Linked DNA regions of Homo sapiens. The protein of the gene in region 1 interacts with the protein of each later gene in a pairwise test. Each region holds a gene or a part of one and is shown in the gene's direction. Other genes may lie near its edges. The genes, in order: F10 and NBPF19.

Evidence for each region.
Region 2: the proteins of F10 (region 1) and NBPF19 interact in a two-hybrid assay, tested with the Homo sapiens proteins (one large-scale study listed by BioGRID).

What each region holds. Positions count from the first base shown.
Region 1 is NC_000013.11:113,139,733-113,143,550, forward strand, and holds part of F10 (coagulation factor X isoform 1 preproprotein), read left to right. Parts: intron 1-1,186; coding exon 1,187-1,318; intron 1,319-3,818. UniProt on the Homo sapiens protein: Factor Xa is a vitamin K-dependent glycoprotein that converts prothrombin to thrombin in the presence of factor Va, calcium and phospholipid during blood clotting.
Region 2 is NC_000001.11:149,551,294-149,555,111, forward strand, and holds part of NBPF19 (NBPF family member NBPF19), read left to right. Parts: intron 1-33; coding exon 34-206; intron 207-915; coding exon 916-967; intron 968-1,593; coding exon 1,594-1,766; intron 1,767-2,480; coding exon 2,481-2,589; intron 2,590-3,201; coding exon 3,202-3,445; 3' UTR 3,446-3,818.

The sequences.
Region 1 (3,818 bases):
TTGATGAAGCGTGTGATCCATTCATGTGTAAACAGGAGTGGACTCTCTGTTTTCCTTGGGGCCAAGTGCATTGCCCTGTTATTCCTGCTCCTTGTGACCCTGTGCAGTGATTCTAAATCACCTCTTATTTATGTGTATGGATGCAGGTGTCAATATTTGTGAATATTTGTGATTGGCCAATTATAAAAATTTGATACATTTAATTAGTTCTACGTGGAAAAATCACTAAGTGCTTTCTCTAATGTGGTGATTAAGTTTTAAATAAAAAGTTAGGCTACTGTTAGATCAATTTCCCTAAGGAAAAAGATTTGCATTTCTTTTAAAGTACTTAATTGATCATCTTTTTTTTTTTTTTTTTTGAGATGGAGTCTCGCTCTGTGGCCCAGGCTAGAGTGCAGTGGCACGATCTCAGCTCACCGCAAGCTCCGCCTGCCAGGTTCACGCCATTCTCCTGCCTCAGCCTCCCAAGTAGCTGGGACTATAGGCCCCGGCCACCAGTCCCGGCTAATTTTTTTTTTTTTTAATTTTTTAGTGGAGACGGGGTTTCACCGTGTTAGCCAGGATGGTCTCGATCTCCTGACCTGGTGATCCGCCCGCTTCGACCTCCCAAAGTGCTGGGATTACAGGCGTGAGGCACAGCGCCGGCCTAATTGATCATCTTTAGACTGTGTTCTTAGATTGGATTACTTTTGAGTTTTCCCTGATGAGAATATCAATTACGCATCATTCCATTCCAAGTCCGCAGTCGCCTCCCTGGAACACCATTTGGTAACTTATGAGGCATAACCCTGTTCAGGCTCCCAGGGCTATTATGCACATTTTCTAAAATTTCAGGCATGTTGATCTTTGCACTGTGATTACTTTTTCATCAAAAGCCACACAGAGGGATGTGGAGTGACCGTAATGTGAGTGCTGCTGGGGCAGGGGGTACCGGCCATCCCGGAGGTGTGAGGGGCAGGTACCTGGAGCCTGGCTTCTGGCTACACCGGGCACTGCACCATGAGCTCCCCGTGACCCGTGAGGTTGCCCTTCAAGGCAAGTGTACCTGTCGCCTGGCTCTGGCCCTTTGCTCAACCCAATGGCCGCTTTGTGGCTGACAGGCAAGTGGATGTAGCTGGCACCCTTGGGCCAGCCCAGCCTCCATTTCTCCAGCTGTCCCCAGAGCCAACGTGCCTCTCCTTTGCAGTCACACGGAAGCTCTGCAGCCTGGACAACGGGGACTGTGACCAGTTCTGCCACGAGGAACAGAACTCTGTGGTGTGCTCCTGCGCCCGCGGGTACACCCTGGCTGACAACGGCAAGGCCTGCATTCCCACAGGTAGGAGGCACGTTGGGCCACAGCCACCCGCTGCCGCTGGGCCGGGCCAGGGAGGACAAGCCCGTGCCAGGGGGTGGGGACACAGGCATGTTCTGGGCGGGCCTGGCAGGTAACAGTGACACCAAGAGGACAGGACTGAGCCCTGGGCTCCGGGCCCAGGTGGTTCAAACATGAAGACCATGAGGTTTGGAAACAGACCCATTATTTCTGTAAGCCAGATCTGCTGTTTAACCTCAGCTTCCCCATCTGACAAATGGGACCAACACTATTGCCTGACTGCTTGGGTGATCCCTGGAGCACTTTGCATGATGCCTGGCCCACCGCAGGCCCTCAGTCTGCATTGGGACTGTGGGGGGATCCAGTGCAAGGGCTCAAAGCACCAGGGCAGGCAAAGGGCAGAGCTGGCCCGAGGAACTGGAGCTAAGGTGCGGGGCTGGGATAGGAGTCAGGGGACGCTCAGGCTCTGAGCTCCTTTTACCAGGACCAGTGTTCATTGAACGTAGTTTTTCTTTTCCTTGATGAATGTGGACAACAGGCGGCCAGAGGGCAGTGAGCACAGGACAGGCAGGGGACTGGGCAGGGTGGGGACGAGCCTCCCTGTCCTGACCCCGTGGGCATTGCCTACGCTGGGCTTGCCTGGCTGCCGGCACTTCCACACGGCCAGCACACATGAGGCCCTCGAAGGCGGGGCCTAGGCGTCACAGCTGCACCTTGCACAGCAACCCCACTCCCACTCATAGCTGGCCCGACCCGCAGCGTTGGCCTCACCCGGGGGCATATTCGAAGGGCAGAGTTCCAGGCCCGCCTTTTCAAGAGCCTGGTGACCCAGCTCACCTTCCGGCTTCAGGTGCGGCTCAGCCCCCAGACCGTGTTCTGCCCCCGGCTACCATGACTGTCCCCTCCAGACACAGGTTACTCCCGAGTGTTCTGTCACTCTTCCTTTCATATCCTTCTTACCGAAAACAATTTACTTCCAAAGATGAGTGATCACGAAAAGACCGGGTTCCATATGCATCCTTCAAGCGCTGCTTCAATTATGTGCCTGAAACATCTCAGCAAGTGAAAGACACTGTGGCTGACCTTGCTACTGGCAATGACATTCAAGCTTAAGCTGGTTAAAAAATATTTTAACTGAAGTCATTTCTTGACATACACACGAATATTTTTTAATTCTAGAAACAATCACAAATCCATTTAAAACCAAGTGTGGGCCGGGTGCAGTAGCTCATGCCTGTAATCCCAGCATTTTGGGAGGCCAAGGCGGGCGGATCATGAGGTCAGGAGATCGAGACCATCCTGGCCAACACAGTGAAACCCCGTCTCTAGTAAAAATACAAAAAAAAAAAAAAATTAGCTGGGCATGGTGGTGCACGCCTGTAGTCCCAGCTGCTCAGGAGGCTGAGGCAAGAGAATGGCGTGAACCTGGAAGGCGGAGCTTGCACTGAGCACTGAGCCGAGATTGCGCCACTGCGCTCCAGCCTGGGCAACAGAATGAGACTCTGTCTCAAAAAAAAAAAAAAAAAAAAAATCAAAAGGCAAATGTGATGTGTGAAAATAAAATTACATAATCTACTTTGTAGTGCAAAAAGTTCAGGCTGGGCAAGGTGGCTCACGCCTGTAATCCCAGCACTTTGGGAAGCCAAGGTGGGTGGATCACCTGAGGTCAGGAGTTCAAGACCAGCCTGGCCAACATGGTGAAACCCTGTCTCTATAAAAAAAAAAATACAAAAACTTAGCTGGGCGTGGTGGCGCACGCCTGTAATCCCAGCTACTCGGGAGGCTGAGGCAGGAGAATCGCCTGAACCCAGGAGGTGGAGGTTGCAATGAGCCAAGATCATGCCATTGCACTCCAGCCTGGGAGACAAGAGAGAAACTCCATCTCAAAAAAAAAAAAAAGTTCAGTTCCAAATAATGGATGAACTCAGAACTTGGAAGGGTGGTGACTGCACACATGGACAGAGCTGAGGCACGGCGGGGTGGAGGCCCCTGCGGCTGGCAGATTCACCGGAGCCTCCTCAGACTGCGCAGGAGCACAGCAAGTAAACAGCTAAGCTGTGCCCATCTGACCCCAGACACGTGTGGCCACAGAGAAGCCCCTTGCCATCCATTCCCCCCTCCTCTCCTCTCCTGCTCCCCCACACCCCTGCCTTCCTCCAACATGTTTCAGCCATTCTCTTGGCCTTGGTGCCCTAATTGGCCGTTATACAAAAGGAAGCTTCCTAACATCTCGGCGTGGCCTCTCTGGGAGCTGTGCTATTCCAGACGCTCTCCTGTGCCTCCAGTTGTTTGCGTGCGCCATTCCTTCTGCCTGAAAACTTTTTTTTCTTCAATGTTTCATTAGGAAAAGTTTTCCAACACACAGCACACTGGAAAGAATTTTGCAGGGAGTCGCACACGCCCAGCACTTGGGTTCTCCTGTTGGCATCCTCCGGCCAGATGCATTCATCCCATTTCGCCCGGCCCGTTTGTCTCTGTCCATCCGTCAAGCTTTCTTGACTTC
Region 2 (3,818 bases), on another chromosome or scaffold:
TGGCTTATTCTTTACTTTTTCCTACTTTTCCAGGCTCAGCAGGGAGCTGCTGGCTGAGAAAGAGCCTGAAGTCTTGCAGGACCCACTGGATAGATGTTATTCGACTCCTTCAGGTTATCTTGAACTGCCTGACTTAGGCCAGCCCTACAGCAGTGCTGTTTACTCATTGGAGGAACAGTACCTTGGCTTGGCTCTTGACGTGGACAGTGAGTACCTTACTATGAAGGTGATAAGCCTCCACCTGGTCTTCCAGATAGGGGTGATATTCCTGTTCCAAGTGGCCCTTACTGACCCGAGAGATGTCATTGCCGCAGGCAGGACCTATGGGCGCATATAGGTTGTAATGAAACTGTAGTCTCAGTTGGAAGCCTAGACATGAAATGGGTCAGTGAGCAAGGCTCTATTCCTAGTCTCCAGCCATGCCTGTGGCAACCTGAGCCCGCTCTCAGCACATTGGACCCAGGCAGATGTAAAAAATTCACAGAACTATGATTTGGACTCAAGGGTTTGTAGATTTCCTCCTTCATTCTAATTTCAGTGTCTAAAATTCTTACATCCATGAACGAGCTGGGCATTTGATGAGACAGGGCTGAATACTGCAGTTTTCCTCCTAGAAATCATCTGGGGCATTTTCTTTGAACTGATGGGAACAATAAGGCATAACTGTTTGCACAAACTTGGGATAAGTGATTTTGGGATAACGATCTTCCAGAATGGGGATATTTCACCCTTGGTTCTGAGATGCAAACCAAAGAATATCATGACCAGCTTTCAGGCCTCCTGAAGTATATCTCTCACATTGTCCTGTTCTCATGCTGAGGAGCCTGAGATCCCTGTGTGGGGATTAGACAGTGGACTGTTATGGGTGTAGGTGAATTGGCTTATTTTGTCTGTCCCTGTCTGAATGTATTGCAGGAATTAAAAAGGACCAAGAAGAGGAAGAAGACCAAGGCCCACCATGCCCCAGGTAACTGAGCAATTGTGAACAGCTACTTCTGTGTTGACATCTGGAGACTCCTGGTTCAGGGAAAACAGAGCGGGCTGACATTATCGATTACATCTTTTCAAGCAAGCCTGAATTATTCCTACTAACATTGCTGTTGGTTTTCATTGCAGTAGATATTTAGGTTTCCATTTCTTCCTCCCCTTATCATTTACTAACCTACTGTAGGTGGACCAGACTTCAAAAACTGTATTCTCATGGCGACTGCATGGAAACTTGAACACATTTTATGGAAAATTATTGAGCACAGTCTTTTCATGATCACTGTATGCTGTGTGTCCTGAGGGCACTAACTCAGAGTGTCCTGTTACTCCCTCATCAGTGTGTCACCTGGACAATTCACTGAGCTCGTTCTCTCTCTCTCTGTGTGTGTGTCTGTGTGTGTGTGTGTGTCTATCTGTCTTTCTCTTTCATTCTTTTCCATTTGGCCCTGTTCTGTCCCAACATGAAGGCAATAATTTGTTACCTCATTAATGGATCTATCCTTTTACTTTCTTAACCACTTCCTTATGCTACCCATGAAACCTAGTTGGGGCTCTGTTGTGTGTGATTTCCCCTGGCTTATTCTTTACTTTTTCCTCCTTTTCCAGGCTCAGCAGGGAGCTGCTGGAGGTAGTAGAGCCTGAAGTCTTGCAGGACTCACTGGATAGATGTTATTCAACTCCTTCCAGTTGTCTTGAACAGCCTGACTCCTGCCAGCCCTATGGAAGTTCCTTTTATGCATTGGAGGAAAAACATGTTGGCTTTTCTCTTGACGTGGGAGGTGAGTACCTTTCTATGAAGGTGATAAGCATCCACTGAGTCTTCCATATAAAGATCATATTCCTGCTCCAAGTGGCCATTACTGAGCTGAGAGATGTCATTGCCGCAGTGAGGACCTATAGGCACATGTAGGTTGAATGAAACTCTAGTTCTACCTGGAAGCCCAGACATGGGATGGGTCAGTGAGCATGGCTCTCTTCCTAGTCTCAGGCCATACCTGTGGCACTCTGATTCTACTCTCATGACATTGGACCTGGGCAGATGTGACAAATTCAGAGAACTATGATTTTGACTCAAGGGTTTGTAGATTTCCTTTTTCACTCTAATTTCAGTGTCTAAAGTCCTCACAACCATGAACAATCTGAGTATTTGATGAGACAGGGCTAAATATTGCAGTTTTTCTCCCAGAAATCATTTGAGGGTATTTGCTTTAAATTGATTGGAAAAATATGGCATAACTGTTTGCACAAACTTGGGACAAATGATATTGGGATAACGATCTACTAGAATAGGGACATTTTACCCACAGTTTCTGGGAGAAAAACCGAGGAATTTCTATCATGACCAGCCTTCAGGCCTCCTGAAATATATCTCTCACAGTGTCCTATTCTTATGCTGAGGAGCCTGAGGTCCCTGTGTGAGGATTAGACAGTGGATTGTTATGTGTGTAGGGGAATCAGCTTAATGTGTCTGTCCATGTCTGAATTTATTGCAGAAATTGAAAAGAAGGGGAAGGGGAAGAAAAGAAGGGGAAGAAGATCAAAGAAGGAAAGAAGAAGGGGAAGAAAAGAAGGGGAAGAAGATCAAAACCCACCATGCCCCAGGTGACTTTCAGCAATTGTGGATGCTTAATTCTGTGTTAACACCTGGAGGCAACAGATTCAGGGAAACCAGAGTGTGTTTGATGTCATGTTTTCAACGAAGGCTGAATTACTCCTACTGTCATTGCTGTTGGTTTTCATTGCAGTAGATGTTTAGGTTTCCATTTCTTCCTCCCCTTATCATTTACTAGCGTACCATAGGTTGACCATACTTCAAAAGCTGTACTCTCATGGCCACTGCATCGAATTTTGAGCATATTTTATGGAAAACTATTGAGCTCACTCTTTTCATGATCACAGTTTGCTGTGTGTCATGAGGGCACTAACTCAGAGTGTCCTTTTACTCCCTTACCAGTATGTCACCTGGCCAATTCACTAGGTCACTTTCTCTCTGTCTCTGTCTCTGTCTCTCTCTCTCTGTCTTTCTCTTTCATTGTTTTCTACCTGGCCCTGTTCTATCCCAACATAAAGGCAATAAATTTTTTTTTTTACCTCATTAATGGATCTATCCTTTTTCTTTTCTAACCACTTCCTTATGTGACTTCTGAAATCTAGTGGGGCTCTGTGGTGTCTGATTTTCCCTGGCTGCTTCTTTAGTTTTGTCTCCTTTTCCAGGCTCAACAGCGTGCTGATGGAAGTGGAAGAGCCTGAAGTCTTACAGGACTCACTGGATGGATGTTATTCGACTCCGTCAATGTACTTTGAACTACCTGACTCATTCCAGCACTACAGAAGTGTGTTTTACTCATTTGAGGAAGAGCATATCAGCTTCGCCCTTTACTTGGACAATAGGTTTTTTACTTTGACGGTGACAAGTCTCCATCTGGTGTTCCAGATGTTAGTCATATTCCCACAATAGGCAGCCCTTACTAAGCCGAGAGATGTCATTCCTGCAGGCAGGACCTATAGGCACGTGAAGATTTGAATGAAACTACAGTTCCATTTGGAAGCCCAGACATAGGATGGGTCAGTGGGCATGGCTCTTTTCCTATTCTCAAACCATGCCAGTGGCAACCTGTGCTCAGTCTGAAGACAATGGACCCACGTTAGGTGTGACACGTTCACATAACTGTGCAGCACATGCCGGGAGTGATCAGTCGGACATTTTAATTTGAACCACGTATCTTTGGGTAGCTACAAAATTCCTCAGGGATTTCATTTTGCAGGCATGTCTCTGAGCTTCTATACCTGCTCAAGGTCAGTGTCATCTTTGTGTTTAGCTCATCCAAAGG